Homo sapiens: one gene and its partners. The protein of the gene in region 3 purifies or fractionates together with the protein of the main gene of each other region. This does not show direct contact. Each region holds a gene or a part of one and is shown on either strand. Other genes may lie near its edges.

Region 1 (8,758 bases), on a different chromosome or scaffold from region 3:
TCTATGTTCATACTATCGTACACTCATTGCATCATGTTAAATGGTAAGATCTATTTAAAAACACAACCAAAGTGTTTCAGAGTAGATGACTAAAGTTTACACTGATAATCCCAAACTGTAAAGTGATATTTTGAAAATATATCACCTCTTCACTGACTGTTCTTCAGACTGCAGCACTATTCCAATTTGATAATGTTCTTCTTTACTGTTACTTCTTGTCTTAATCCACCCACCTCGGCCTCCTAAAGTGTTGGGTTTACAGGCATGAGCCACTACACCCAGCCTGTTTGTTTTGGGACAGGGTCTCGCTCTGTTACCCAGGCTGGATGCAGTGGCACAATCACGACTCCTTGCATCCTCACACTCCTGGGCTCAAGTGATCCTCCCAACTCAGCCTAGTGAGTAGCTAGGACTACAGGCAAGTGCCACCACACCTTGCTAAATTTTTTATTTTTTACAGAGACGAGGGTCTCCCTATGTTTCCTGGCTGGTCTTGAACTCTTAGGCTCAAGCAATCCTCCCACCTTGGCCTTCCAAAGTGCTGGGATTACAGGTGTGAGCCAACATGCCCAGCCACATTTCTCAGCTGTGATGTGAGAAGGATTTGGCATCTCTTTCTTCTGAAAGGTAAATCTATCAATAATATGCAGTTGTGTGTAATCATTTTCATTTAACAGTTATGTACTGAGTATGCCAGGTCCCATTCTAGGCATTAGGCATAAAATAATGAAAAAAAGCCCCTGCTCTCATACAGCCTGCATTCTAGTGGGGATAAAAGACAAGAAACAAGTCAGATGGAGCTATGCGTTATAAAGAAAATCAAGCCTATGGGTATAGAGAGTGACAGAGTGACGTGGGGACATGTTAGTTATATAAGGTGAGCAAGGATTTCTATTAAAAGGGGACATATGAACCGAGACACAAGGATATTTGTGGCATGTGTATCCTAAAGAGAATATAACAAACATAAAGGTCCTAAAGAAGGAACACGCTTGGCCTGCTGAAGAAATTGCAAAGAGACCAGTGGTGTGGGAAGAGAATAAGCCTTTGTTTCTCACTGAATGTTCACAATCTTTGCCATGGTTTACTCTTCACAAGATTTTAATTCTTTTTTTTTTTTTTTGAGACGGAATTTTGCTCTTGTTGCCCAGGCTGGAGTGCAATGGTGTGATCTTGGCCCACTGCAACCTCTGCCTCCCGGGTTCAAGTGATTCTTCTGCCTTAGCCTCCCAAGTAGCTGGGATTACAGGCTTGTGCCTGGCTCATTTTGTATTTTTAGTAGAGACGGGGTTTCTCCATGTTGGTCAGGCTAGTCTTGAACTCCCGACCTCAGGTGATCCGCCTGCCTCGGCCTCCCATAGTTCTGGGATTACAAGTGTGAGCCACTGTGCCTGGCCAAGATTTTAATTCTTTAAAAGCCTTTAGATTCGAACAGATTCAGAGATTCTAACTTATCTGAAACGTTGAGATTGTTTCAAGTCTAGGGGTAAGTGGGGGTGTTACTGAATAAGGTAATAATTTGCTGTAATAAGTATTTTGGCCGAATATAGGCTTGTAAACAATCTAAATTATAGATATATTGCCTAGTTTTGAGAAAGAGAAGGTGGTATAGTTGGAAGATCTAAGAGCCAGATCTGGTTTAGAGTCTTGGCTCTATACTTACTTGCTAGGAGCAATACTCAGTTAGAGTTGTAGGTGTTAGTACATATATACCCTTTTACTCTTTTATTCTAATTTTGTAATGTAAAAGTAGCATAGTGGTTATGGGGAAAGAATACTGGATTGGGAGTCAGAAATCCTGAGTTAAACACCTTTGGTGCCACTTATTAAATGTGTGCCCTTAGACAAGGAACTTAAAAGCCTCAATTTCCTTATCTGTAAAAAGAAAAAAGATCTCCTTCATAACATTATAAAGATTAAATGACATAATAATCTATGTAAGTGAAAGCAATTTGTAAAAAACAAAATTCAGATCATATCTATTTTTAAACTTCTCACAGAGCTTTCAAATTCATATTTTACTGAGTTTATAATTTTCACCTAAGTGCTTTCAAAATTTGTTTAATTTTACCTTTTAATTTACCTATTCATTTGCACTTAAGAGTTGCAAAATTTAAAATTTATCCTTCAAAGTCAGTTCCCCATATTAGCTTATGGTAAACTTTATAAAATAACTCCTTAAATTGCATAGCAAAATTCAACAGATAGGAACTCACTCTGAAATCCTCAAAAAGGGTCAGAATGCAGATTTTTCACTTTAACTTTATTAACTGACCATTTTGCAACCAAAAATACGGGCACTCAGAGAAACTGATTTGAAAAAGTAACTAACAACCATTCTGTTTACTTGCACAACTGCTAACAACTTTTTAGCAGGTTTTTGCTGTTTCTATCTTCTGAACCTCTCTTGCTTAGCTCAATCACTGAGTGCTAAGCCTAAGTTTGCAGTCATGTATTTATTATCAAATACTTGATATATGTTCTGAAGGCTGCACTAGACAGAGACATTTATTTTTTAGTATCATATTATTTACCAGCCATTAGTTAGCATCCTTATGTTCCTGGACAGTAATTTAAAATGCAATCCAAAAGAATAGCAGCCAAAACCTTTAAAACATCCTCAATGGTCTTCAAAAATAATTTACAAGACATTTAACGAATGGAACTTACTCCATGCCCTGTGCAGTCTGTCGTGCAATATCTATAAGTTTGATCATCTCAAATTTGGTCTCAATGATATGGAGATGGTGATACAAGCTGGAGCCCTCACACCACTGGGTAACAATAGCCAGTTGTGGCTTTGTGGAATAGCCCATGAAGAGTAGGATATTCACATGTCGTGTTTTCCTGTACAAAGAAATGTGACAGTAAACATTAAATGTCGACAAACTTTAGCAATTCTTACAAAAGAGAACCAAAGTAGTCTGTCGGTAAAATGTTGTCAGAAAAAGCTTTTTTTTTTTTAAAAAAGGCAACAAAAGGATACATTTAGAAGAGACTGGCAATTGCCAAGTCTAACCTCCTACTTTATGCAGAGATATCTTTTTAAATATATCTGACAGGCAACTAGAGGTTGCTTAAATACCTTCAACTATGGGAAGTTCATCACTCAGTTGTAGCTGACTCTCATATCTTTATTTAAGTGGTTCTGGTATTATAAAGTTTCCAAGTGTTGAGACAAAATCATTTTCTTACAACTTTCACCTCTGGCTTGCTTCCCTGGTCTGCTCTCTGGAATAACTTTTTTTTCCGCACTCTGGAATAACTGTGCACTCTCTTGAACATAACAGCCTTCTGTGAACTAAATATCCTCAGTTCTGTTGATTATTTTCCCCCGTTACACCTCTAGAATCTTCCCTATTTAGGTGGTCCTCACTAGGCATATCCTAGTTTGTCAATGTTTCTAAAATTCCAGAGCCCAGGACTAAATACCACCTCTAAATGTATTCTGATAAGCTTAAAACTGGAGAGTATTCTTTTCATAAGTAGAACTATTACTTTATATTATCAGAATACTATACTTCCATTAATTCAGTCTAGGACTAAGTATTCTATCAGCCATACCATATAACATTGCATACTACTTAAAAGAATGTGGTTAAAGACAAAAATATACTCAGACATACTCTGTTTCTACAAATTTATTCATTTTGAGTAAATCTGTAAAGCTAATAGTTGCTACCACTGGGAACCAGGAGCTAATAAAAATAACTTCTTTCTCTGGAAAAGAGTAATTCACACAAGCTCACCTGAGTACTCCTACTTCATTTTTGAAGGCTTGTAACTGCTGAGGTGTAGGTGCTGTCACATTCAACATTTTCACTGCCACATCACCTAAAAGGCAATTGTTACTCCAAGTGTCATTTCAATTTTTAAAATTTAAAAGTATAAAACATTCTTGGGTGTTTTCACTAATTATCATAGCCCTAACTCCATACCATTATTAAATCACAAATAAATTATACTTTAGCTATCTAAACTCCATTTGTTTTCTAAGGCTAAAAATTCAACTAACAATGATATTCCTGTACTAGTATTTCAAAATATCAATCCAAAAAATAGCCAACCTTGTTTGTTCCATGGAAATTTGGTAAAATCAATTAAGTACCCATGGTATTTTCCAAATTATTTGACAATATTAAATTATACTTACTAGGCTTAATATTTATTTACTAACTGAAACTGCAAGTAATGTTGAAACTACAATTACCAGGCCCTATGGAATTTTGCTTAAAAGTAGGAAACTATAAAACTTTTTTATCAGAGTAGTTAACATTTTTTTCAAATTTATGGATTACTTATGATACTTTCAATTAGGAAAATGACTAAAACTGTCACTAAAATTTAAAAAAAACTTCATGTGAGTTAATGGGTGCAGCACACCAGCATGGCACATGTATATATATGTAACTAACCTGCACACTTTGCACATGTACCCTAAAACTTAAAAGTATAATAATAATAAAAAAAGAAAATGATATTTTATTAAAATCATCAAAAAAAAAAAACTTTATGTGAAACAGCTGTAACGTCAACACTGCCAGTAGGTGTTTAAATTGGTACAACTACTTTGTAACATTGTTGGCAGCATTACTAAAACTGGACATATGCATACCCTGTGGTCTCACAATTCTGTCCTAGGTATATATACCCATCAATGGTTACATGTTCACCAAAAGACATACACTAAAAATGTTTACAGCACCAGCATCAATCAAAGCCCCAAACTGGAAACGATCCAATTGCAACAGATGAAAGAAGAAATCATGTTATAGTCACACAATGAAATACTGTAAAGAGAATGAATGACCTCCAACTTCACACAACAATATAGATGAATCTTATAAACAATGTTGAGTGAAAAGGGCCGACACAAAAGAGTACACACTATGCACTTCCTGTTGTAATCACAGTGGTGGTTACCCTTGGGAGAGAGGTGATTGGCTAGAAGAGGACATGGGAGGGTGTTTCTAGAGTGCTAGTAATGTTCTGTTTATTTAATTTTTTTAGAGACAGAGTCTTGCTCTGTCACCTAGGCTGGATGGAGTGCAGTGGTGTGATCATGGCTCACTGCAGCCTTGAACTCCTGGGCTCAAGCCATTCTCCCACCTCAGCCTCCTCAATAGCTGGGAGTACAGGCACATGCCACCATGCCTGGCTAATTTATGTGCACTTTTATACACAGGCTGAGTATCCCTTATCCAAAATGCCTGGGACCAGAAGTGTCTCAAATTTCAAATTTTTTCTGATTTTGGAATATTTTGATTATACTTACCAGTTTAACATCCCTAATCCAAACATATGAAATCCTCCAATAAGCATTTCCTTTGAGCATCATGTCAGCACTCAGAAAGTTTTGGATTTTGGAGCATTTCGGGTTTGGGATTTTGGATTAAAGATACCCAACCTGGCCAGGTGTGCTGCCTCACACCTGTAATCCCAGCACTTTGGAAGGCCAAGGTGGGTGGCTCACCTGAGGTCAGGAGTTTGAGAACAGCCTGGCCAACATGGCAAAACTCGTCTCTACTCAAAATACAAAAATTAGCCAGGGGTGGTGGTACGCGCCTATAATCCTAGCTACTCAGGAGGCTGAGGTAGGAGAACTGCTTGAATCTGGGAGGCAGAGGTTGTAGTGAGTTGAGATTGTGCCACTGCACTCCAGCCTGGGCGACAGAGCGAGACCTTGTCTCAAAACAAAACAAAACAAACAAAAATAAATAAATAAAGATACTCAACCTGTATGTATATTTTAATAAGTTAAATCAACATTGATTTTCCTCAATTATCAAAGTAATACAGTGCTTATTCTACTGTTTGTATCATAAAATACTGTACAGCACTTAAGAAAAGTTTAAAGACATTTTGAAGGTATAAAAAAATTCCCTTAATTATGTCACTCAAAAGTGACATTATATGTTATTAGGCTTTTACATGAATTTAGTGTGAATATTTATGAACACCTGTGAAAAGATAGATTAAGGAGATAAAAACTAAAACACAGTCTTTTTTTTTTTTTTTTTTAAGACAGTCTCGCTGTTATCCAGGTTGGAGTGCAATGGCGGGATCTCGGCTCACTGCAACCTCCACCTCCTAGGTTCAAGCAATTCTCCTGCCTCAGCCTCCTGAGTAGCTGAGATTACAGGCGCCCACCACCAAGCCTGGCTAATTTTTTGTATTTTTAGTAGAGATGAGGTTTCACTATGTTGGCCAAGCTGGTCTCGAACTCCTGACCTTGGGTGATCCACCTGCCTCGGCCTCCCAAAGTGCTGGGATTACAGGCGTGAGCCACTGTGCCTGGCCTAAAATACTGTCATATAAAAAATTATGTTATATATTTCTATGAGCTCCATAATATGGTATCTTACACATACTGCTTTGAAAAATTTCATATACCAAAGACACCTTTCTACATCAATAAATGTACCTCTACCATGCCATTTTAACTCCTATATAATCACATATGATGGTATAAATTTATCCAATTCTCTATTAGTTGGATACATGTTCACTTTCACTTTTCATTGATATTAAACCTTTGATGAAAATACATCCACTACTCTTAATATAATCCAATTTAAAAAGATTTTGTCCAACTAAGAGGCAAATAATGATGTCTATTTTTTGAATTTGCAATTCTTTGATAACTAGTAAGGCTGAACATTTTGTATATGTTTACTGGCCACTTATATTTCTTTGTTAATTTTTTTTTTTTGAGACGGAGTCTCACTGTCACCAGGGTGGAGTGCAGTGGCGTAATCTCAGCTCACTGCAACCTCCGCCTCCTGGGTTCCAGTGATTCTCCTGCCTCAGCCTCCCAAGTAGCTGGGACTACAGGCACGTGCTTCCACACCCAGCTAATTTTTGTATTTTTAGTAGAGATGGGGTTTCACCATGTTGGCCAGTATGGTCTTGATCTCCTGACCTCGTGATCAGCCAGCCTCAGCTTCCCAAAGTGCTGGGATTACAGGCATAAGCCACTGCGCCCAGCCATTAAGTACATTTTTAATATGTTTACTTGTGACTTATAATACAAATAAAATTATCAGCTGAAAGACTCTAAAAGAAAATAAAATCCTTTTGAGGACTAGTTAACCTGGAGGAATTCCCCTTTAAAAATTATTACTGTAATAAAATGGTAGGAGTCCCGACTGCTGTGAACAGTTTTTATTTCCCATAATTTTTGTTAGAAACTTTTGGAGGAGTCCTGAAACTAATCAAAATAGTTTATTGATGCGAACAGTGAATATTTCCTTTGATGATATTTTTTACAAAATAAAAGTTGTTAAACATATCCTATTATGACTTGTCACAATGTCACCACATTACATACTTACCATGCCACTTTCCCTTGTAGACTGTTCCAAATGATCCAGATCCAATTCTTTGTCCCACTGTAATCTGCCCATCAGGAATCTCCCAATCATCACTCGAGTCCCGTCTACCAAGTGTTTTCTTGATAAAAACAGTAAAAAAGTCAAGTCAAGCCAAACAGAAAAAGAAAACCTTATGTTTCACCCTAAGTACATTACCTTATGCCTGAGAGGGATACAGGAAGAGATCCCCTTAAGAAAAATTCTCTGGAAGAATAGTAGTTAAAAGTATGACTCTTAAAATACAAAACTTAAATTTAAGACTGAAGTCAATATTAGGATGGAAAAAATTTATTTTTATTTTTTATTTTATTATACTTTAAGTTCTAGGGTACATGTGCACAACTTGCAGGTTTGTTACTTATGTATACATGTGCCATGTTGGTGTGCTGCACCCATTAACTTGTCATTTACATTAGGTATTTCTCTTAATGCTGTCCCTCTCCCCTCCCCCTACCCCATGACAGGTCCCAGTGTGTGATGTTCCCTGCCCTGTGTCCAAGTGTTCTCACTGTTCAATTCCCACCTATGAGTGAGAACATGTGGTGTTTGGTTTTCTGTCCTTGTGATACTTTGCTCAGAAGGATGGTTAGGATGGAAACAATTTATTAAAAAATATAAATTATTTATGGGGTATGAGCAGGAATGTATATTACTGAAATAAGTAAAATGTTTTTATCATCTGGAAGACTTTAAGGAGCAAGATAAGTGCTGCTATATTTGTGAATAGTTTTGGCTCTAAATCACAAAAAATTTTAAGTTAACCTGTGGTAACTACTGACAATTCATCTAGGTAGTCTTTTTCAATCAGTGCTAAATTTCTTCATGTATCTTATCTAATTCGGTCTTTCCAAAAAAAAAAAAAAAATCAACATATAAAATTACTTTGGTAGGGTAAAAGATCCTCTTATTCAACAATTAGTAGCAATACTACGGCTAAACAGTATTCGTTTTTTATTTTTAAATTTTACTTTAAGTTCTGGGATACATGTGCAGAATGTGCAGGTTTGTTACATACGTATACATGTGCCATGGTGGATTCATTTTGCAGAAGAAAGTTGATTTTTTAAATAGGGAAGAATGTCCTTCAGTAGATATCTGAAATATCTGAATTCTGGACCAGCCTTTTCGTGCCTTCTAATATTAGCTTTCTCTCTTTTTCCTTACTTTAGAACAGAATACTGTTACTCTTCCAAAACTGCCTTTTACTAAATTATATTATAGATGACAGCAAAAAGCAGTGCCGTAGAAATATGCTTTAAGCAAAAAACTATCAGTTCTTAAATTTATTTAATTATGGGAATTCTGTGTCACATATGGACATAATATATCTAAAGGATAATATTACATTTGGCTGTGACTTCTAAGAAGAAAGAATTCAGAGAAAA
Region 2 (7,000 bases), on a different chromosome or scaffold from region 3:
TTTTTGGGAAGGTAAGTTGGCACCTAGCAAAATGTCCTTTAAATATTTCCTTCACAAATAGTCACATGGCCGGGTGCGGTGGCTCACACCTGTAATCCCAGCACTTTGGGAGCCTGAGGCAGGCGGATGACTTGAGGTCAGGAGTTTGAGACCAGCCTGGCCAACATGGTGAAACTCCATCTCTACTAAAAATACAAAAATCAGCCGGACCTGGTGGTATGCGCCTATAATCCCAGCTACTCGGGATGCTGAGGCAGGAGAATCGCCTGAACCTGGGAGGTGGAGGTTGCAGTGAGCCGAGATCGTGCCACTGCACTCCAGCCTGGGTGACAGAGTGAGACTCCGTCTCAAAAAAAAAAAAAAAAAAAAGATATACTAAAAATTCTGCTATAAATATAGCCTGTCACTTTTTCCATTAGCAATATGTTATGTTTTCCCTTAATGAGAAATATTATTCAATAAGACATTTAATGGCTGCAGGTTATTCCTCCATACATAATTTATGTAACTAAATAATTTTTCTTTCCAGAAATTTAGATTTTTTTTCTGAATTTCTTTTTTTTTTTAGCTGGAACCATAGGCGCCTGCCACCACTCCTGGCTAAGTTTTGATTTTTAGTAGAGACAGCGTTTTGCCATGTTGGCCAGGATGGTCTCAAACTCCTGACCTCAAGTGATCTGCCCACCTCGGCCTCCCAAAGTGCTGGGATTACAGATGTGAGCCACTGCGCCTGGCCTGAACTTTTTATACTAGGAATATAGTTGGACATTATATATCTAGCCTTATTCATGTCTCTGAATGTTTTTCAGGAGTGTACGTATGTTTTAATGAACTTGAAGACAATGATTCTTTGTAATTAAATATCGTCTAAGGAGGTGAATCTCCTTATAGCTTTAGGGAAATGTCCTGGCATAATCCTCTGGAGAATCACAAGACATTCTCCCCTCAAAGCTGCTCTCCTTGGCCGGGAGCAGTGGCTCACGCCTGCAATCCCAGTACTTTGTGAGGCCGAGGCGGGCAGATCATGAGGTCAGGAGATCGAAACCATCCTGGTTAACACGGTGAAACCCCGTCTCTACTAAAATACAAAAAATTAGCTGGTGGTGGTATGCGCCTATAGTCCCAGCTACTCGGGAGGCTGAGGCAGGGGAATTGCTTGGACCTGGGCGGCGGGGGTTGCACTGAGCCGAGATTGTGCCACTGCACTCCAGCCTGGCGACAGTGCAGGACTCCGTCTCAAAAAAAAAAAAAAAATGCTGCCCTCCCCTGGAAGAACACTTACCTTTCATTTTCCAGCGATTTCAAAATCTCGGAGCTTTTCTTTTGTCTGTGGAGAAAATCATAAAAGGTCCTGGCAGTCACCAGCAGGCCTGTTTCCTGTCTCACTGCGTTAGCTGTGCAGAGGGGCTTAGGAAATGGGCTGGGGGCACCTTGGCTCCACCACCTTGAAGCTCTGGGTTCTTAGCCAGTTACTGAAACCACTCAAGTCCCAGGTTTCCTCACCTATGAAATTAGAAGAATAAAAAAACCCAGCCAGACACAGTGGCTCACATCTGTAATCCCAGCACTTTGGGAGGCTGAAGTGGATAGATCACTTGAGGTCAGGAGTTCGAGACCAGCCTGGTCAACATGGAGAAACCTTATCTCTACAAAAATTAGCCAGGCGTGGTGGCCCAAGCCTGTAGTCCCAGCTCCTTGGGAGGCTGAGGCAAGAGAATTGCTTGAACCTGGGAGAAGGAGGTTGCAGTGAGCCGAGAGCACACCACTGCACTCCAGCCTCAGTGACACAGCGAGACTCTGTCTCAAACAAAACAAAATGAAAACAACCCAGCTTCTTGGTGCATTTGTAAAGACTTAATGAAGAAATAGATGTAACAAGCTTGGCACATAAGAAGCATCCAACAAATGACTGGTTTCCTGAACTCATGCAGGTACTTTTGAAACTGACAGGTGAGGGAGGAACGAGTGATTCAGGGTTAGAAAAAAGAGGCCTGGAAGTGGCAGGGCATATGGCTGGAGCCTGTTTCTGGAATCATCCTGCAATGGGCCCCCTCACTAGACTTCTCAGGCTTTTCTGGCGCCATGTCTCCCCAGCCCCATCAAGATCTGCTCTTACTAGCTCGTACCTTGCACAGGGTTTGTTAAGGCAAATCTCACTACAGGTGAACAGCTGACCTCAGTGCAACGGGTTACGCAGAACCCAAAATACTGGAGCAGGATGTGATCCCAACTATCTTGTCAAACCCACTCACTTTATAGATGGGAAGCTTGGGGCCCAGTGGGGAAACATTTGCCCGAGGCCACAGGTCCAATCTGGTAGCAGTCTCATGCTAAGAAACCAGACTTTGTAATGACTGGGTCAGATTCTTTTCTCTCTACGCTGGTGCCAGTTGAAGCACCCAGACTGGATCCTGACAAGGGAAGCCCGGGGCAGGGGCAGAGGCAGTGAGGGAGAAACACACTCCTCCCGGCTCCTCAGGGGACTGCACGGGGAAGGACTCTGGGGCTGGGGCCGAGGAGCAGAGCCCAACCTCTGATTGTCCTGCAGCAGCTTCTGGATCCGGCTGGAAATGTTCTGTTCCGTCTGCTTCAGCTGCTCCTGCAGCCGCTGCCGCTCTGCGTTGAGGTGGCGCTGGTGCTCACTCAGGCCCTGCTCCAGCCGGGACTGCTCCTGCAGCCGGAGGTAGGGGTCCTGAGCCCCTGGGACCCCCTCAGACGCCGTGAGGGGTACTGACTGGGGTTAGGAGGCTGGCTTTCCCACCCTGCCTTGCCAATCCTTTTTGTGTGACCTCCGGCCAGCTCCTCCCAGTAGGCTACAGTGTCCATCTGCACACGGGGAGGCTGGGCTGGGTGATCTGTAAGGGCCCTCCCAGGTGCTGGGGGACAGAAGGAAGTGACAGCTTCATCCCACTGCCTTTCCACATCCGAGGGACCTTGGCCCAAGCCAGGAGGCCACTGGCTGGGGGATGCAGCCAGGCTGGACCCTAGCAGGCGGCTCACAAACCTCCTTGACCGTCTGAAGGATCTCATCCTTCTGGCTGCTGCTCTGCTGAAGGAGCTGGGTGTGCTCCCGCTGCCCCAGTTCCAGGCGCCGTTCAAACTCGAGTTTCTCCAGCATCTTCTGTTCCTGCAAGACACAGATCCTGGTGACTGTCAGCACAGGCCCTGGGGGAGTTAGGACACAGAAGTCGGGAGAATCCACCCCTCAACACTGACAGGGCAGGCTCCAGGTCTTCATGCTGAGCAACCCCCACTCCCCTCCAGGGCCCAACTGTAAGAAAACAAGCTGTTCACAGGAAGAGGCTAGTGGTCTAGAGCCCGGTGCTGGGCTCAACCCCTCTGAGCCTCAGTCTCTGCACCTGTCCCATGGATGCTCTACCACCCACCTGAGGCATGTGAGGATGCAGCAGACTGCGTGTAAGAGGAAGGCATTACTGTGACCTCTAATTCTGAGCTGGGAAGAAGTCATTTTCTCAAATATTTTATGAGTTGAGTTGAGATCTTTAATGAGAAAAGAGTGACAGAAGGGTAAAGGCATTTTCTTACCTTCCTCTTCTCATAGTCTGAGAACCTGTTCTGGGAGGAAAAAAAGACAGTGGTCAAGAGAGGGTGGCAGCAGTGGTTCTCCCTGGCATGGGCACCAGGAACCCCCGGGTGGCCTGATGTTATACAAACTCTGGCCCACCCCAGACCACTGCCTCAGAATGGTGGGGTCGGGGGATGAGGGGATCCGTATTGATCAAGGGCACCAGGTGGTTCCAGTGGACACCTGATGAGAACCCCTGGGCTGTCACTGTGTGCATGGCACTGTAGGAGGGGCTCTTCAAGACAGTTCTGGGATGCAGCCCTGAGCAGGGATGGTGGTCTGAAGAGCAGAGCAGGAAATGGGATATCTGATGCCCATGGATGTCTGCGTAACACACCTACAGCACCCGGTTCCAGTCCACCAAAATACTCACAGTGCACAAAGGTGTGGGTACAACTTCCTGCAGAATTATTCAAAAGAGCAAAAACACTGGAAATAACTCATACATCTATCAACATCTGTCCGTAAGTCATGGTGCATCCATACAGTGGACTATTACACAACCGCCAATGGGGCGAATGTGTGAGATCCCTCACCTGTGTGTAGCATGATTCTACTTTTGCAAAAACATCATCAAGAAAACTCAACTCTGAGCATATGTGTGAAGGTATTGAGTCAAAGGTCAAGAAGGACAGTCATTAATCAGTTAATGATGACTACCTCCAGGCAACGGGAGTGCAGGGTGGAAGGGTTGACATTCACTTGGTTTGTAATTGTCTGTATTGTTTAAATTTATAACAAGGAGCAGGTATTAAACATCAATAATGTAATGTAATTATTGGTGTTTAATTAATTAATTTATTATTGATGTAATTAAACAGCAATACACATATACACAAGAGTTAGGTTCTTCTTTTTTTTTTTTTTTTTTGAGACGGAGTTTTGCTCTTGTTGCCCAGGCTGGAGTGCAATAATGGCACAATCTTGGCTCACTGCAACCTCCACCTCCTGGGTTCAAGCAATTCTCCTGCCTCAGCCTCCTGAGTAGCTGGGATTACAGGCACCCACCACCACACCCGGCTGATTTTCTGTATTTTTAATAGAGACAGGGTTTCACCATATTGGCCAAGCTGGTCTCGAACTCCTGACCTCAGGTGATCCATTTGCCTCGGCCTCCCAAAGTGCTGGGATTATAGGCATGAGCCACTGCGCCCGGCCCACACAAGTTTTTTCTTTGTGATGGAGTCTCACTCTTGCCCACGCTGGAGTGCAGTGGCACAATCTCAGCTCACTGCAGCCGCGACCTCCTGGGCTCTAGTGATCCTCCCACCTCAGCCTCCTAAGTTGCTGAGACTGCAGGCACGCACCACCATGCCTGGCTAATTTTTTGTATTTTTGGTAGAGACAAGGTCTTGCTATGTTACCCAGGATGGTCTCAAACTCCTGAGCTCAAGCATCCACCCGACTCGGCCTCCCAAAGTGCTGGGATTATAGGCGTGAGCCACTGCGCCTGGCACACAGGTATTTTTTGAATGGTCCTTCTATTTAGTTATCCTGTTTTGAGAACAGGATCAGTCTCTGAATTATAAAAGCAGCAACCTATAAATAGGATTTTGCCTATACTAATGGTAGGAATATAATTTTAAAATTAATCTTCAATTATACAGATAACATCTCAATATATTCTCCTTGTAAAAGTTTGAAACATGGTATAAAAAACTAAAGCATCTACTGACCACTCCAGCCTAACCCTGGTTCCCCTCCCACCCCACACCTCCTGTCAGGTGTAACTGTCATTATCAGGCCCAAGGCATGCATCTGTACATATATAATTTGTGCCTTTGGGAAAGAAATATATTTGTATTTGTGTGCATATATAAACATTTTTTTAATCAAGTATAATCTATTTACTCTAATTCACCCAATGTTAGTGAACAATTCTATGAATCTTTATATATGCATAGAGTTCTGTAACCTCTAAACACAATTAAGATAGAAAACAATTCTGGCTGGGCGCGGTGGCTCATGCCTGTAATCCCAGCACTTTGGGAGGCTGAGACAAGTGGATCACTTGAGTTCAGGAGTTCGAGACCAGACTGGCCAGCATGGTGAAACCCCGTCTCTACTAACAAAATGCAAAACTTAGCCAGGCGTGGTGGCAGGTGCCTGTAATCCCAGCTACTCGGGAGGCTAAGGCAGGAGAATTGCTTGAACCTGAGAGGCAGAGGTTGCAGTGAGCTGAGATCATGCCACTGCACTCCAGCCTAGTGTGACAGAGTGAGACTCTGTCTCAAAAAGAAAAAAGAAAACAATTCCATCACCCTCGAAAATTCGCTCATGCCACTTCATCATCAAATCCTCTTCCCACTCCAGCCACTGGCAACTACCTGTCTGTTTCCTTTTTTTGTTTTGAGTTTTCTTTTTCTTTCTTTTTTGAGATAGGGTCTAGTTCTGTTACTCAGGATGGGGTGCAGTGGTGTAATCTTAGCTCACTGCAAACTCCAACCTCCTGGGCTTAAGCCATCCTCCCACCTTAGCCTCCCTCGTAGCTGGGACCACAGGCACGTGCCACTATGCCTGGCTAATTTTTTTGTATTTTTTGTAGAGACAGGGTCTCGCCACATTGCCCAGGCTGGTGTTGATTGAGTTTTCTTTTTAAACATAAGAATGGAAATAGACTAGCCCATCCTGTTCTGCAATCTGCCCTTTTCACTAATCCATGTGTCCCAGCGAGCCGAGGCTCAAATGCTCCATCTCATGGTGTGCACATGACCCAGGGGCAGTGCCTTCTCACTGACAAACATTTGGGGGGCATCCAATACTACAAATAAGGCTGCAATAAACACTCCTGCAAATGTCTCCTCATGCAAGCATTTATCTTGGGTATACATTGAGAAGCGGAACTTCTGGATCACGGGCTGTGCCCATGAAAATTTTTGACATCTGGCGGGTGTGGTGGCTCACACCTGTAATCCCAGCACTTTGGGAGGCCGAGGTGGGCAGATCACTTGAGGTCAGGAGTTCGTGACCAGCCTGGCCAACATGGTGAAACCCCGTCTCTACTAAAAATACAAAATTAGCCGGGCATGGTGGCGCATCCCTGTAATCCCAGCTACTCGGGAGGCTGAGGCAGGAGAATCACTTGAACCCGGGAGATGGAGGTTGCAGTGAGCCAAGATTGCACCACTGCACTCCAGCCTGGGCAACAGAGTGAGACTCCATCTCAAAAAAAAATAAAAAAATAATAAAATCTTTTTTGACACCTACTGTCAAATTATCCTCCAAAGTTGTGATACCAATTTTCACTCCCAAGAGCAGTTTATGAGGACACCTGTTTTCCCATACTCTGGCCAACAGAAATTGTCATGTCAAAATGTGTGCCAATCTTGAGGAAGGAAATGGTATTTCAATGTTGTTTTAACTTAACATGCCTCTCCTCTGATTACCAGCAAAGTTGGCATTTTTAAATGTTTG
Region 3 (6,631 bases):
AAATTGTGATTACAGCAGGCAGATAGAAATAAACTCTTGAAAATTAGCTGATAAATTGACAGTTCAAATTAACAAATGGGAGATAGCAAAGCTGCTGTAGGAGCAATAAGATAGTATTTAATTGTGTTCAAAATCCAAACCAAAACTTCCTGTATCTGCTGAGTACCGACTAAAAGAAAGGCAGTTAGCTGGAATAGCATAGGAGACTGCAAGAATCTAATGATTGTTCTTTTCTCGAGGAAGTAGAGTTGATAAAACATCTGAGTCCTCAACTGCTTCCACCACCATGAACATTTGTAACTAGTCACCGACATGTTCATGTCAGTTTAGTAAAGTCTAACAACAAAGTTCACTGAAATATTGAAATAAAGTCTCCCAAGTTATCTTCTTTTAGCAATTTCTTGCTTAAAACAAATTAAGTTTGGGGCTTCCTAACAAAGGTTGAGGGATGTGACAATATAATAAACATTGTTAACAGGTTTTTGTGAATACTCACTATGTTTTATACACTATGCTGGGTACAAGATATTCCTTATCTCATTTATATTTTATACATCAAACCGTAACATAGTATAATAGGTGTGATCTGAATAACTTAATTGCATAAAATATGAGGTCACAAATTTGTGGGGTTAATAAAATTTCCAAGGTAAGGCTGTGTGTGTTTAGAAATTTTGAAAGTTTGGGTGAGCCTTTTTTTTTGTTGTTACTGATGGCAGTTGTACATCCTAATTGATATATCAATGGGGATGTTTCTGGATCCTGTGGTTTCCAGCACTGTGGCAGAGATTTCAAAAATAGTTTGGTTAGTTGGTGCCTATTTGGTGGTCAAGACCCAAAAACATGAGGGCAGAACAATAATAATAATAATAATAATAATAATAATAATAATAATAATAGAGCATACCCTTTTCTTCCCAAATTCCTGACTCAGGGTTGACTTCATCTGCTGCTTCCCAAACTACCCTTGCTCTCCACTCCCTGGGAAGTGAAAGTGAGTTGATTCAGTTTATATCCCAATTGGCCTTTCCATGGGGTTAAATATGCAAAATAGCAAGTGATAGGCCCCACTACACAGATGGAAAGACTTAGCTTCATCAACAATAGAAAGCAATATACTCAGTATCAAGTGTACATAAGCAGAGCGAATATGAAGCCAACACTGTCCTTTAGAAACACTTATGGCTCACAGCTCATATATAAGTGAGTTCAGAAGAGAAACTGAATGGGAAAATGAGAAGTTTCACCTCCCCAGAAATATATTCTCTCAAGTATTTCTAGATAAATTTCCAGGTGAAAAATCAAATTTCTTTAAATTAAAAAAATTCAAAATGACAAATGGAAGTTTGTTGATGCCAATATATTTCTAAAGTCAAAATTACAGAAAGAAGCACTGCATGTCAAACATTATGAAAATACTATGTATGAGAGAATAAAGTATTTTGGAAAAACAAACGGATAATTCTTTAAATCCAGAACTACTTTTTATCTTCTGATATCATAGAAACAATGTCATTGTAAACTTCTTGAGGGGCATCCATTGCCCAGATAAAGTCCAAGTGATTGTAAAAAGGAATCTCCTTGTGGTAAATAAGATTGGGGAGTTTTGGAAGCAAAAGGCCAACATCTTGGGGGTCAGCCAACAGGTCCTTGCCACCGTTCCACACTGCAATTGGTACATTCATGGCTGTCACATTGTAGTAGGGAGGTTGGGACTAGAAAACACAAGAGAAAGAACCAGAGTTTAGGTAACCACACTTTAAACCCAGTACTTACTATTCAAGTAGAGTGTATAACATTAACTGGCGGTTTTATAAGTGAATTCTAGCAATGATTGCACAGAGAAAACCACCTTTATCCACAGAGCAAAGTGAATGCAATATGTTTTAGATAAGTGCTTGTCAAATTCTAATGGGCCTGTGAATTACCTGAAGATCTTGTTGAAGTAAAAATTCTGTTTCAGTAGATCTGGGGAACAGCCTGAGATTCTGCATTCATAGGTGATGCTGATGCCATTGGCTCCAAACCATGCTCTGAATAGCAAGGCTTTGGACAGTAAGTCTTACAAATTAAGAACATAGATTGCAACTCAAGCTAAGGGAAATGGATTTGATTAGATTCTAATTGTTAATAGGTTGTTTCTACCCAAACACTCTAAAATATGATCTCAAAATGTCCTGAGTCATTTATTTTGGCTTTGTATTGACTTCCCAGTTATGGTCAGGGGATAGGTCAGTTGTTTCAGTTATGGAGCTGTAATTGTTGAATACTTACCTGAGTATTTACAAAATGTTGCTTCAAATTCTGAGAAAGGGTATTATCATCCCCATGTCCTGTTTCTCGAAAATCACAATTCACACATAGATTTTAAAGAGGTTTACAAAGCAGAAAAAGGAATAAGAGAATTATCTCAAATTTTCTTGCTGCCCAGAGAGAATTTTGTTAGATTTTTTTAGATCATAGTTTCAAGAATAGTAATCCAATATACTAAAAGTTTCTGTATTCTCACATTTTGTGTAATAGCCAACTTGCCATAGCAAAATATTTTATGATATGTAATTTTCCCTAATATTTTCATGATTTCTATTATATTTCCTAAATATTAGAGAAAAGGGAGTGTGTGGAGAATATTCATAATTATAAACCCAGCTTATTTTACTTACATCCTATTATTCAAAGAGTTTTCTAGATGCTGGCCCTGGCTCTTAAATTAGTGTCATTGCTTCAGTTAGTTAAAGACCAACCTGGTATATTATTGGTTTAGTTGGAAGAAGGGTGGACTTGGGGACTGGGTTTCTTGTTCCTCTAAGATGAAGTCCTCTGATTATGAGTATTAGAGTCCAGTAGAAAGAGAGACTCAAAGCAAGCCTGTGTGTTTTGGAGATTTGAGAAAGTGATGGTGGAGGAAAAAATGTTTTCAACAAAAGTTTGATCTCATGCTATTCTGAAAACTTTAAAGATATCAAAAATGCAAAATCAAGGTTGGGGGGCACCTTCTCTACACATAAGACATTGTTGTTAAAACATATAAATTCCTTCTAAATTTTAAGTCATGGAAACAAATGAAAATTAGTAGAGTTGTTCAGCTACTACTTGGATGGAAAAATTGGATGTGGTGAAAAGGAAGAAGAGAAGGTTACAAAATACTATAGGGTGCTTCCCTTGTTCAAAAATAGTCAGTGATAACCCGAGAGCTTACCCTGAGCTAAGAGCTTATAGATATTATAGCACTAAATCCTGTCAACAACTTCCTGAGCCTGGGTGGAGAGATGAAGAAATGACTGCCCAAACTCATATTGACTGCAGATAAGATAAGCTCCAAAGTCTGGATTCTTATTACAGCAAGTGTGAGGACTGCTTAATATGTCTGCCTATGCCAAAGGCCTCTGCCTATTGTAAAATATTTCCAGCCTTGACCTGCAAGCACGGCATCTTTTTCTTCTATTTGGGAATATATCCCATTGAAATCACTCCTCTGGCTGTCAACAAAGGAAAGGGTATTGTTTAAGAAGACCAGAAATTCCATGAACAGTTAGAATTATTAGCTTATTATATCAGGTATTAGTACTTCAGAAAGGAGAGGACAGTGTGCTGGGGATCTGGGATATGGGACAGGTCTGTGTAATGGCAATGGGTAGTGGTAAGTCCTGGGAAGTCTCTCACACACAGGGGTGTAGTACTTTGAGGGCAGCTTTGTAAACCTCTTTAAATGAGCGTAGCCACCAGAGCAGGAATGCATAGTCATGTGGGAGAATGAGAGACAGAACATCAACATTCCTTTGGAAAACAGATGCGCAGTTAACATAATTTCTTCTTTAACATTTAAATAGTTAGTATTGTTGTTCAAAATGTGAATAATTCCATCTTTAAGAAGCTTACCTGATCATAGTGCATCCTATTCTGAACTGGGCTTCCCCAGTCATAAGCTTGGAATTTCCCAGACTTAACAGCCTAACATAGAGAAATTAAAAGCAAACAAATAAAAATTATTATATTGTGAAAAATAAAATTCAAACATTTCCAAGCAGTTTATTTTCAATTTAAACAATTATTAAGAAACATTTTTCTCATTCCAAAAGATTATTAATAATCTAGGACAAGGTATTTATGTAAGTTTAAATGCAGCTTCACTCAAAATAATTTTTCTTGCATACCAAGTCATAAAAAGCATTTGCTGGGGGGAGGGATAGCATTAGGAGATATACCTAATGCTAAATGACGAGTTAGTGGGTGCAGCACACCAACATGGCACATGTATACATATGTAACAAACCTGCACGTTGTACACATGTACCTTAAAACTTAAAGTATAATAATAATAAAATAAAATAAAAAGCATTTTCTTCTTTGAAATAAATTCATAGTTATTTTTGTATGGTAGTCAGTGCCAGAAAAATTACCTTCCAGGTGTACTCAGCAGGATATTTTAAGAATGTGTTTAGGTAAAGTGAAAAGGGTTGAGACTCACAAAATACATTTTAACAGCATTTGGAAAAGAATACCTGGGTCCAATGGAACATGTTTTGAACAGAAGTTCCTGCTGGATTATGTGATAGATACACATCCAAGCGACTCTAGAAATCAACAGACACACATATTATATACATACTAAGACACATACTCAGTTTCTTAAAAACAGTAAAGATTTATGTTTTCTGATTCAGGTCAAGTGTTTAAAGGTAGCATTTACTGGAAGGATATGAACAACACATTTGTATGTCACTTCAGAATTTGCAAAGTGCAATTGCATGTGTTAACCCATTTAATTTGTAGCTGCCTAATGAGGAGAACTTATTAGTTCCATTTTATCAACATGAAAATTGGGGCACAAAGAAGTTTAAAGAAATGTCCAAGATCCACACAGAATGGAGACAGATACTTTAATTTGGGTCTCTGAGTCTAAATTCTCAGCTTTTATGCTTCTCTACCCAGTGCTAGAGTGCTGTAGGTTAAATATTCACACACAGGCCTCTTGCTTTGCAGAACCCCAAGCAACAAACTGAAGTTCCTTTCTCCAGTTGCAGAAGGCCACTTCATAGTGACTCTTAATGCCATTAATATAGCGGACTGTGGCCATAGTGAAACAAATTGGCCATCTTCATTGGAGACTGAAGATGGTCTTCTGCAAATTATTACGCAGAAGATGAAATCTCTAATTTCCTTTGTTTCCTTTGTCTTATTTTACTATTATTTTTCTTATAAGACTCTCACTAATGGAATACAGTAATTTGTTCTGCCTTTTGTTCGTGTGATGAGGACAGGCTACTCTCTGTTAAACTCCACATATGGAATGACAAGTAACCACAACACTTCATAGAATTATACCTTCTTATCAATAGATGTAATTTTCTTAGGTGTTCAAGGGTATATAACTAAAGTGACAATTTGGAGGGGAGATAGTTGTCTATGAATAGTAGTAGAAAACCTTATATGCTATTACTATGTGCTATATGCTTTGTACAATGTTCTATATGCTTTAAACATACTAGCTCATTTGATCTTCCCAATAACCCATTTTGTGGATGAGGAAATCAAGACAGAGACGTTTAAGTCAGTTCCAAATGTAGGGTTTGAATTTAAACTGATCTAAATCCATACTCTTAACTATGATAGTGTATTTTGTCCATATGTTTTGAAACTCCAACTCAATACAAAGTGAATGAAAAGGTAGATAAAGAATATGGGCAAAGTCAGCCGGGCGTGGTGGCTCACGCCTGTAATCCCAGCACTTTGGGAAGCTGAGGCGTGTGGATCATGAGGTCAGGAAATTGAGACCATCCTGGCTAACGCGATGAAACCCCGACTGTACTAAAAATACAAAAAATTAGCCGGGCGTGGTGGCGGGCGCCTGTAGTTCCAGCTACTCGGGAGGCTGAGGCAGGAGAATGGCGTGAACCCAAGAGGCGGAGCTTGCTATGAGCCGAGATTGCGCCACTGCACTCCAGCCTGGGTGACAGCGAGACTCTATCTCAAAAAAAGAATATGGGCAAAGTCTTACATAAATAGTTGCTCAGAAATATAGTCTGTAAGATTTATCAAAATGACTGTCAGCATTAGAAATATTTATTGAAAACATTTATTCAATATCTAGACATTTTTCTCACAAAGGAGCCTGCTAAAATATATGGTTCAGTCCTTTCTCTTACAGAATTTAAATGTAACACCTAGTATTTAGGTGGTCATAAGTGAGTAGTGAATTGTGTTTTTTCTTCATGTTGTTTATTTGGTTTAGGGGCAACTGGGGTGATGGAAGGATGCTGGAAGTGATTAAATTGGGAGCAATGATTTGTGATTTCTCTCATGTTTATCAGGATATCGCAGTTCTGAACCTACTCCTAGTTCTCATAAAGTACCACTTCTAAGTGGCAATGAAACAAGTAATCAAAGATGTTGCTCAAAATATAGAAATTGAAATGCATACTAACCGTGTTAAAGTTCTTACTGTCAAATCCACAAATTATAAATAAGGCATTGCTGCAAAGGAGATTCAGCATCTCACGGGAGCACACTTCAGTAGCAAGAAATTGATCAAAGAAGTTGTGTGGGTAGAATATTTTGTCACCAAATATAAACTGAAAAATAAAGGCACTATTAGAGGGTTGTAGCAATCAAGCTGCAGAAAAGACTCACT
Region 4 (8,641 bases), on a different chromosome or scaffold from region 3:
ACATGACAAATTTTGTTACTCTGTTGATTTAAAGAAGACAATTATTGACATTTTAGTGTGTGAATACGTAAAAGCATAACTGTGATTATCTTAAAGGCATATATTGTTGTAGATATTAGGACATTTGGACTTCTTGCTGTTGTAGGAGTCAGTCCTAGTTATCTTCAGGCTGTTTCCTTAATTATAAACATCCCATGACTATGGGTCGTGGCAGGCAAGGAATGTGCCTTGTTAGTCCTAAAATGGAGCTGAACTTAAAATGGCATTATTCTAGCTTTCCTAGGCTGCTGCTTCCCTAACACGTTGACAAACACATTGACAAACAGTAATTGTGAATTGTCATTCTAGCAAATAACCAACCAGATAGGAAACAAGTAGACAGAGTGACTATCTTAAATAGACCTATTCATTAATTTTATTTCATATGTCATACATTCATCGGTTTATTCATTCATTCATTCATTGCTCATTCTTTTTTATTTTTTTCCGAGACGGAAGTCTTGCTCTGTCACCCAGGCTGGAGTGCAGTGGCGCAATCTCAGCTCACTGCAACCTCCGCCTCCCGGGTTCAAGCAATTTTCCCGCCTCAGCCTCCCAAGTAGCTGGATTACAAACGGTGGGCACCAAATGTATTTTTAGTAGAGATGGGGGTTTCGCCATGTTAGCCAGGCTGTTCTCGAACTCCCGACCTTGTGATCCGCCGGCCTTGGCCTCCCAAAGTGCTGGGATTACAGGCGTGAGCCACGGCGCCCAGCCTACTCATTCTTCAACAAACATTTAACAACAAGTACTATGTGACCGACTCCGAACTGTCCACTTTCTTCCTATGGTTTGACAACAGAAAATTATAGAAAATCTAGCGCTGTCTTTACCCTTGTTTTATTTAAAACTGCCCTAACTTGAGTCTTCAGTTCTTCTTAGGGCTCCAGGAAAGGAGGGAGGATAAGAATACCTTGTACAATGTTAATAAGTTCTAGATTGCCAGATAGTGTATTCATCAAAATCTAACTGGAAAAAAATATGCCCTGGACACCTAAGAAGTTTATACTGCTTTTCTCCTTAAAATGAGGAAGCTGTAGAATATAACTGGTTAGAGAAAATAATATAACCACTTCAGATATCTGAAAGCCTCAGTCTCAAGAAGTCTCCCTGCTCTCTCTCTTTTCCCTTTTGAATTTACTATAGCTATTATCATTTTAGATTTTTCCCCCCAACTTCTTCTATCTAATCATTAAAAAGGAACTTGTCTTTTACTCGGCAGGCCAAATACTTGAGTATCTCATTTGACTGTCATAACAATGATGCAGAAAGACTGACAATAACAAAACTCAGAATATTGATTGCTTCATTGACAGTGGGAAATATCCCTATTTGGTAGGAGGAATGCCTGCGCTATCTGTCCAGGCACATGCTTCCCTAGAATTAGGTCCTTGGGAAGCAGATGTAGTACACAGATGGTTGCAGGGCCCAGGAAAACAGTGTATCTTGAGGAAAATTTTATCCCAGCTACAGTGAATTTAGAAGTCTGACAGCACAGCCTTCTCCTGTAAGAATTAACACCTCCCTAAGGACCCTTTTACCCTCGTTCCCCCAATTTGGTGTCTCTGTGCCAAGGGGAAGGAGACACTAGAACTCTAATTTTCCAATTTTCAAAAATTTCTAGCAGCAATGCTTCTGGATTAAGACATTCTTTGTGAAACTGATTTGGCTTCAGGCGAATCTTTCTCAAGGTGGCCTGGGATTCCTCTTTGAATCTATCTGATTTGTTATCTGCGAGGAGTCAAATTCTCAGGGTTCCTGGGACACCACCCACATTCCAATTTTCCTCTGGCAACAGATCTTGAAGACAAAGACAGACAGGCTAGAAATTGGGACTCTTTTTCTCTTGATTATACTTCTCATCCAATTTATACCCAGTCCTGTAATTCTTTTCGTGAAATGTCTCTCAAATCCTGTCTTCTCATCCCCACTATCAATACCTTATTTCCTGCTCTCTTCATTCTTGCCCTGCTGCAGTGGTTACCTTTTTAAAACACAGATCCGAACTTCTTACACCCCTTTCACCACTCTCCACTGCCTCCAGAAAAAACACAACTCAAGGCTCTTCAAAATATGACCGCAGCCTCCTTTCCTGGCATTCTCTCTTCCCCTCTTTCCCTCACTCCCCTCAAGTTGCAAACCACAAAGGATTCACCTAATGTTTCTCACACTTGGTAGGTGATTTCTTTTCTCTGAATGTGCTTTTCCTGTTTTCTCCGTTCTCTGAGTTTGCTTTTCCTGTTTTCTCTCTGGTGAATTATTCATCTTTTAAAGTTCACCTTAAATGTTTTATCCTTGGTGAATCTTTCTAGATGCTTCTTGGGCCAGTGGATTTTAGGAGAGCGAGGTATATGTGGCTGAGGTACATCACAATCAGCAGAGAAGCTTTAAACACTGCTGAGAGTCACTGTCCCTGCTGGCCTTGGGTTTCTTCTTTATTCACTCTTCCTTTTTTTGAGACGGAGTCTCGCCCTGTCGCCCAGGCTGGAGTGCAATGGCGCGTGATCTCGTCTCACTGCAACCTCTGCCTCCCAGGTTCTGTAGCAGGATGAGCCGCAGACAAAACTCCTCAGACACGGAGTTAAAGAAGGAAGGGGTTTATTCGGCCGGAAGTATCGGCAAGCCTCCTGTCTCAAGAGCCTAGCTCCCCGAGTGAGCAATTCCTGTCCCTTTTAAGGGCTCACAACTCTAAGGGGGTCCGCGTGAGAGGGTCATGATCAATTGAGCAAGCAGAGGGTACTGTGAATGGGGGCTGCATGCACCGGTAATCAGAACGAAACAGAACAGGACAGGGATTTTTACAATGCCTTTCCATATAATGTCTGGAATCCATAGATAACATAACCGGTTAGGTCAGGGGTCGATCTTTAACTACCGGGCTTAGGTCAGGCAGGCCCAGGCCTGGTTTCGGGTCTGGTTCTTAGGCGCCGGGTTACCTGCCTTTAATTTCGCTTCTCTTTCCTTTTCTGAGTATAAAACTATATGAGAGGTTCTGTCTCTCTTCTCTCAGTTCAAGCGATTCTCCTGCCTCAGCCACCCGAGTAGCTGGGTACAGTCACGCGCCACCCATGCCCGGCTAATTTTTTTGTATCTTTTAGTAGAGATGGGGTTTCACTACGCTGGCCAGGCTGGTCTCAAACTCCTGACCTCGTGATCTGCCCGCCTCGGCCTCCCGAAGTGCTGGGATTACAAGTGTGAGCCACCGCACCCGGCCCTCATTTTTACAAATGTAATTGAGTACTTGTTTGTGTACACTAGTAGACGATGTGCTTCTTGAGAGTAAAGCCCAGGTGTTCTACATCCATGGTTCAATTAATGCATTGGTATCTTTTCCAACCTATGGCATTTGAGATACAACTTCAAAAGGATCTGCTGACAGAAATAGGGCAAAGTGGTTCTGGTATTTTTTTTTTTTAAGTTTTTTTCTCACTAATGTTCTTATGATTTCGCTGTACTGCAATGTTAGCTGAAACAGCACAGATATCAGGAATGGCATTGTTAAGACTGACCTTAGACAAAAACCCTGAAGTGAGAGGTTACATTTTGGGTTCTCACCATACTCTTCCCCCGCTCTTGTCCTAATTGTCTAAAGCTTGCTTCCCTTCCTCATCGTATCAGCCTCCCACCTGAATCTTCCCTTTTCCTCCTTCACACTCATCTTTCTTGTGCCCCTGTCCCCCATTTTTCCCTTTTGTAAGCCATTTTCATAAGGATCCTTCCAAATATTTCCCCTATTGATTGGACAACCCGTAGGTGGCAGACTGTTCTGGGCCAAGGCAACCAAGTTGAGCAGGGCCAGCAATCAGTGTCGGGAACTTCTGCAGGGCACTTCAGAATCAGTGTTGGGAACTTCTGCTTTCTATTTTTCACGGACACAGACAGGAACACAGATATGCGAAAGCAAAACAATCAAAAAGCATTTTCATTTGTTTTTCAGGTAGTAGGAAAGAGTTCCAGATTCCCATCCTTCTGAAGCCAGGAGGGAGGTTCCTAAGAGGAGGTTAGGGCAAGATGGAGACTTCTTTTTAAACTAGTAGATTTCGCAAATTGCAACACATACATTATCTAGTCCACGCAAAGGACAGGCCTTGGGGACACGGCACGGGGAACGTGTTCCACCTGGACGACTGAATCAGAAGTCTCTCCCCCATCAATTGAACGCCTCATTATTTTTCTTTCTGTCTTTTCTTTCTTTTTAAGGTAAATGAATTGCTTCTTTTTCGTTAGGTGAGGCCGGCAGAGAACAAGAAGAGCTGAAACGGAGGCGAGGTTAGTACCCAGCAAAGACCTGTGGCGAGGAGAGACAATGAAGAGGACCACGGGACTGGACCCTGAGAAAGGCAGAGGAGACGCTGGCTGGTGGGGCCCGCAGGCGGACAGCCACGCAGGCAGGCGGAAGGCTCGGCTCGGCCTGGGACCGCTGCAGACCCGGCCTCCGCGCGGGGCCGAGGCGCCTGGGTGGGACCGAGGAGGCGGGGCCTTCCCGGCGGACGGATGATGGACAGCCTGACTCTCCAATCGCGTCCTTAAAAGGGTGCGGGCAGGCCAATGAGCGGACAGCGAGGGCCGGAGTGGGGCTGAGGCTTCGGTGCAGAGCTGGAGAGCCGCGGCTGGGACCGGAGTGGGGAGCGCGGCGTGGAGGTGCCACCCGGCGCGGGTGGCGGAGAGATCAGAAGCCTCTTCCCCAAGCCGAGCCAACCTCAGCGGGGACCCGGGCTCAGGGACGCGGCGGCGGCGGCGGCGACTGCAGTGGCTGGACGATGGCAGCGTCCGCCGGAGCCGGGGCGGTGATTGCAGCCCCAGACAGCCGGCGCTGGCTGTGGTCGGTGCTGGCGGCGGCGCTTGGGCTCTGTAAGTGATGCCAGGACCAGGGCTGGGGCCGGGGAGTGGGGCCCCCGGGCCCGACACACGCCCATCGCGGCGGTCGCAGGCCAGGCGCGCGCACTGAGAGCCGAGGTGGGGAGGGGGCGCGGCCTGCGCTCTCTGGGGCCGAGGGGACCCAGCCCATGGGGAACGCGGGCCTCCGCGACTGGCCGGGAAGGCGCAGAGCCTCTTTCTTCTCTTTCCTGGATCCTGGAGTGCGGAGGAGGAGGGGAGAGTGCTTTACCTTGCTCCTTCCCGGGGGGCGGTCCAGGGGAGCGGACCCGGCGGGCGGCTGCGGTGAGCCCTCGCGGCGCACCCTGCCCTCTCCTCGTGGTGACTCTGGATCGTCTAGGCCCTCCCGGATTCTGACTCAGGAACTAGGGTTCTGGCGTTCTTCACCTTTGGGAGGTGGCGGAAAGTTGCAGGTTTTTCATTTGTAGGGCCTTTGTTGATTTGTTTCCTGTTAAGCCAGGGTTTTGTTGTAAGTTCCCTTTCCCATGCTCTCATTCAGTTTTAAGTCTCCGTAATAAAAGAGTCTCATTTCCGTGGTCTGCAAAACGCCAATAAAAAAATATTGTTACTTCTAGGTTAGAATGCAAAGAGCTTGGAATACCAGTGAGATGGCCTGGCTTAAAAGAATTTGGTCAAATCCATCATAATTCCAGACGTAGCCACCATAATTTGACAAGACATAGAGCATTAAAAAGCATAATTTTCCTAAAGGAAAAAAAAAGCTCCTTTTTCTTACCAAATATTGTGACTCAAGCTTAAGGTAAACCTCGGGCTCAATTTATGGGAATTGGATGACTTGTTTTATGGACATCTGAAGTGGTATCTGCCACAGGACTTTTCTGTGTTGTTGTTCAAAGCAAAGTACTTGTTGCTGTCTCCGAATTTAGTTAAATAATAGTTATAAAGAGGGCCAGCTGCTAAGAAACCACGTAGATTTTTTTCATTCCCTTTGTTTTCAAAATGTCAGTTATGATTTAGCATCACAGTATCTGAATACCAGAGTTTACTCAGTAATTTCTTTCTTCATGGAAAAGTTCTTAATATAATCCTTGGATCAGGGAAACTAGGTGAAGTTCTGTTGGATCACCAACTGTTCCACTTAAACAGTGATTCCAGGGGCTGTAAAGCATAAATGTAAAAGTCTCCCTACCCTCCAGGGGTTGACAGATGATGACACACTTTGTGTAAGACACAATCCATTCTGTATTTTGTCTTAGAAAAAAAGGTTAAAAGTGTGTTTGTTGGTGGTGGTATTTGTGTTTAATCAAACAAGTAGAAAATAGCCTAAAATTAAGGTTTATCAGAAATATGCTTCAGACAGAATTGTTATGCATGAGAGGTCAGACATTGCTATGGAGGACAAAGCAGTTAGGGTGATCTTAATTAAAATCAGGGTATTAAACGTAGAAGGAGTGCAAAACTACATAGTAGTGAAAAGATCACTAGAGTAATAGCCCCATACAACTTGGACGTAACTCTTCAGTAATGAAGATGAATGTTGATATGTAAAAATCAGCAGCTGATGTTATTGGTTCAACTTAGAAAATTATTGAATCTAAAATTCTTGCCAAATCACCTCTTTTCTGGTCATGGATACTGCACATAAGAGTTTATCTTTTACAGGATAGCTTCTAAAGTTTTATCAAGACAGTTACTCAGCAAACATTCACTGAGCACCTTTTAAGTGCTTAACACTTAAAAGGTGGGAGGTTAGGTCTCACTGTGTTGCCCAGGCTGCTCTGGAACTGAAACTCCTGGGCTCCAGTGATTCCTCTGCCTTTTCCTCGCAAGCAGCTGGGGCTACAGGTGTGTGCCACTGTGTAGGGTCAGAAGCACATTGGTAAAGATGTACTGTGGGAGCTTGAAGGAGGGTCATTATCTCAGACTGTAGTTCAGGCTACTGGAGGAAGGGAGTTTAAACTGGGTAGGCATGGGGGAGGGGCAGAAGTACATACAGAGTTATGAATGAACCTGTTGGTAGTTCAGTATAGTGGGAGGTTGGAGTGTATATAAGGGGAATGGTGGGAGTTGAGGCAGGAGAGCCTGCCAAGGGCACCAGCTTACAAAGGGCCTTGTCTGCCACACTTAATCCAATGAGGATTTCTCTGTCTATTGAGATGTGAAGGATGGGTTAGAGTGGGGTGAGGCTGAAGCCAGAGAAGGCAGAGGACTATTGTAATAATCCCGGGGAGGATGATGAAGATCTGAATTCAAGCATTGGGCTATGAAGAGAGGACACATGTTGATGCGCCACTTAGAAAGTACGTTTGATAGAGCTTGGAAACATTGATGCAGGCTTGAAAGAGGAGGTGGATAAAATGATCATAGGTTTTGGGCTTGGGAAGCTGGGCATATTTTTGGCCTTTTCACAGATGGGGAAATAGGAGTCTTGGGGGAAGAAGATGATGGAGATACTTTTGAATATGTTGAGTTTGAGATGCGGGTAAGACATCCAAATGGAGATGGGCAGAAAACAATTGGATAGACAGTTCTGGAGGTGAGGAGAAAGTTCTGGTTGGAAATGGAGATTTAGAGAGTTATGTGGCTAATAGTTAAAGCTTGGATTGTTTGGATGAGGGCATCCAGGGAAAATGCACTGAAGAACATAGCAGAGAGCCAAAGACGGAGTTTTGGGGTATATGAAACCTGACAAAGAGTCTCTGTGAGTAAGAGAAAAACCAGGTGAGTTTGGTATTTCAGCATTGTCAGATGAAGAGAGATAAAATGTGATAAGAATTCACTGAATTTGGTAATTGAAATGAGCACATAGTATATGAGGACTAAATCTCAGTAATTTGTACCATCCATGTCAGTAAATGGAACCTCCATACATCTAATTGTGCAGGCCAGAAACCTAGGGTCCATCCCTGATTCTTCCCTGTCCTTCACATCCAATCAGTTCTCCCATCTTTAAAATGCATCTGGAATTGATGTTTTTTCTACCTCCACTCCTAGCCTTTTAGTCAAAGTCACCACCATTTCTTGCCTATATTACTGTGATAGCCTCCCAGCTGCTCTTCCTCTTTTTCCCCCTCTGGAGTCTTGCTCTGTCTCGCCCAGGCTGGAATGCAGTGGCACAATCTCGGCTTACTGCAACCTCCATCTCCCAGATTCAAGTGATTCTTCTTGTGCCTCAGCATCCCAAGTAGCTGGGACTACAGGCATGCACCACCATGCCTGGCTAATTTTTGATTTTTCTATTTATTTTTAAATTTATTTTATTTATTTATTTTTTGGGGGATGGAGTCTCGCACTGTTGCCCAGGCTGGAGTGCAGTAGCGTGATCTCGGCTCACCACAACCTCCACCTCCCTGGTTCAAGCGATTCTCCTGCCTTAGCCTCCCGAGTAGCTGGGACTACAGGCGCATGCCACCATGCCCAGCTAATTTTTGTATTTTTTAGTAGAAACTGGGTTTCACTATGTTGGCCAGGCTGGTCTCGAACTCCTGACCTGGTGATCCACCCGCCTTGGCCTCCCAAAGTGCTGGGATTACAGGCGTGAGCCACCACATCTGGCTGATTTTTTTATTTTTAGTAGAGACAGGGTTTCACCATGTTTGCCAGGTCTGGAACTCCTGACCTCAAGTGACCGGCCTGCCTCAGCCTCCCAAAGTGCTGGGATTACAGGCATGAGCCACCACGCCCAGTACTCATCTTGGTTCGTTTTAATCCATTCTTCACAAAACTGCAAGAATGATTTTGTTAAAATGCAAATCAGATCATGTTG

Evidence for each region.
Region 1: the proteins of LIPF (region 3) and BRAF purify together in Homo sapiens (affinity purification with mass spectrometry; 3 studies listed by BioGRID and IntAct, with this or other methods). This does not show direct contact.
Region 2: the proteins of LIPF (region 3) and LRSAM1 purify together in Homo sapiens (affinity purification with mass spectrometry; 3 studies listed by BioGRID and IntAct, with this or other methods). This does not show direct contact.
Region 4: the proteins of LIPF (region 3) and MPZL1 purify together in Homo sapiens (affinity purification with mass spectrometry; 3 studies listed by BioGRID and IntAct, with this or other methods). This does not show direct contact.

The regions. Positions count from the first base shown.
Region 1 is NC_000007.14:140,774,242-140,782,999, forward strand, and holds part of BRAF (serine/threonine-protein kinase B-raf), read right to left. Parts: intron 7,453-8,758; coding exon 7,335-7,452; intron 3,835-7,334; coding exon 3,750-3,834; intron 2,848-3,749; coding exon 2,671-2,847; intron 1-2,670. UniProt on the Homo sapiens protein: Protein kinase involved in the transduction of mitogenic signals from the cell membrane to the nucleus. Phosphorylates MAP2K1, and thereby activates the MAP kinase signal transduction pathway. Phosphorylates PFKFB2.
Region 2 is NC_000009.12:127,475,510-127,482,509, reverse strand, and holds part of LRSAM1 (E3 ubiquitin-protein ligase LRSAM1), read right to left. Parts: intron 3,577-7,000; coding exon 3,547-3,576; intron 3,128-3,546; coding exon 3,005-3,127; intron 2,672-3,004; coding exon 2,532-2,671; intron 1,328-2,531; coding exon 1,283-1,327; intron 1-1,282.
Region 3 is NC_000010.11:88,673,529-88,680,159, reverse strand, and holds the end of LIPF (gastric triacylglycerol lipase isoform 2 precursor), read right to left. Parts: intron 6,573-6,631; coding exon 6,426-6,572; intron 4,575-6,425; coding exon 4,503-4,574; intron 3,952-4,502; coding exon 3,880-3,951; intron 1,716-3,879; coding exon 1,479-1,715; 3' UTR 1,346-1,478; downstream 1-1,345. UniProt on the Homo sapiens protein: Catalyzes the hydrolysis of triacylglycerols to yield free fatty acids, diacylglycerol, monoacylglycerol, and glycerol. Shows a preferential hydrolysis at the sn-3 position of triacylglycerol.
Region 4 is NC_000001.11:167,717,353-167,725,993, forward strand, and holds the start of MPZL1 (myelin protein zero-like protein 1 isoform a precursor), read left to right. Parts: upstream 1-4,629; 5' UTR 4,630-4,799; coding exon 4,800-4,890; intron 4,891-8,641. UniProt on the Homo sapiens protein: Cell surface receptor, which is involved in signal transduction processes. Recruits PTPN11/SHP-2 to the cell membrane and is a putative substrate of PTPN11/SHP-2.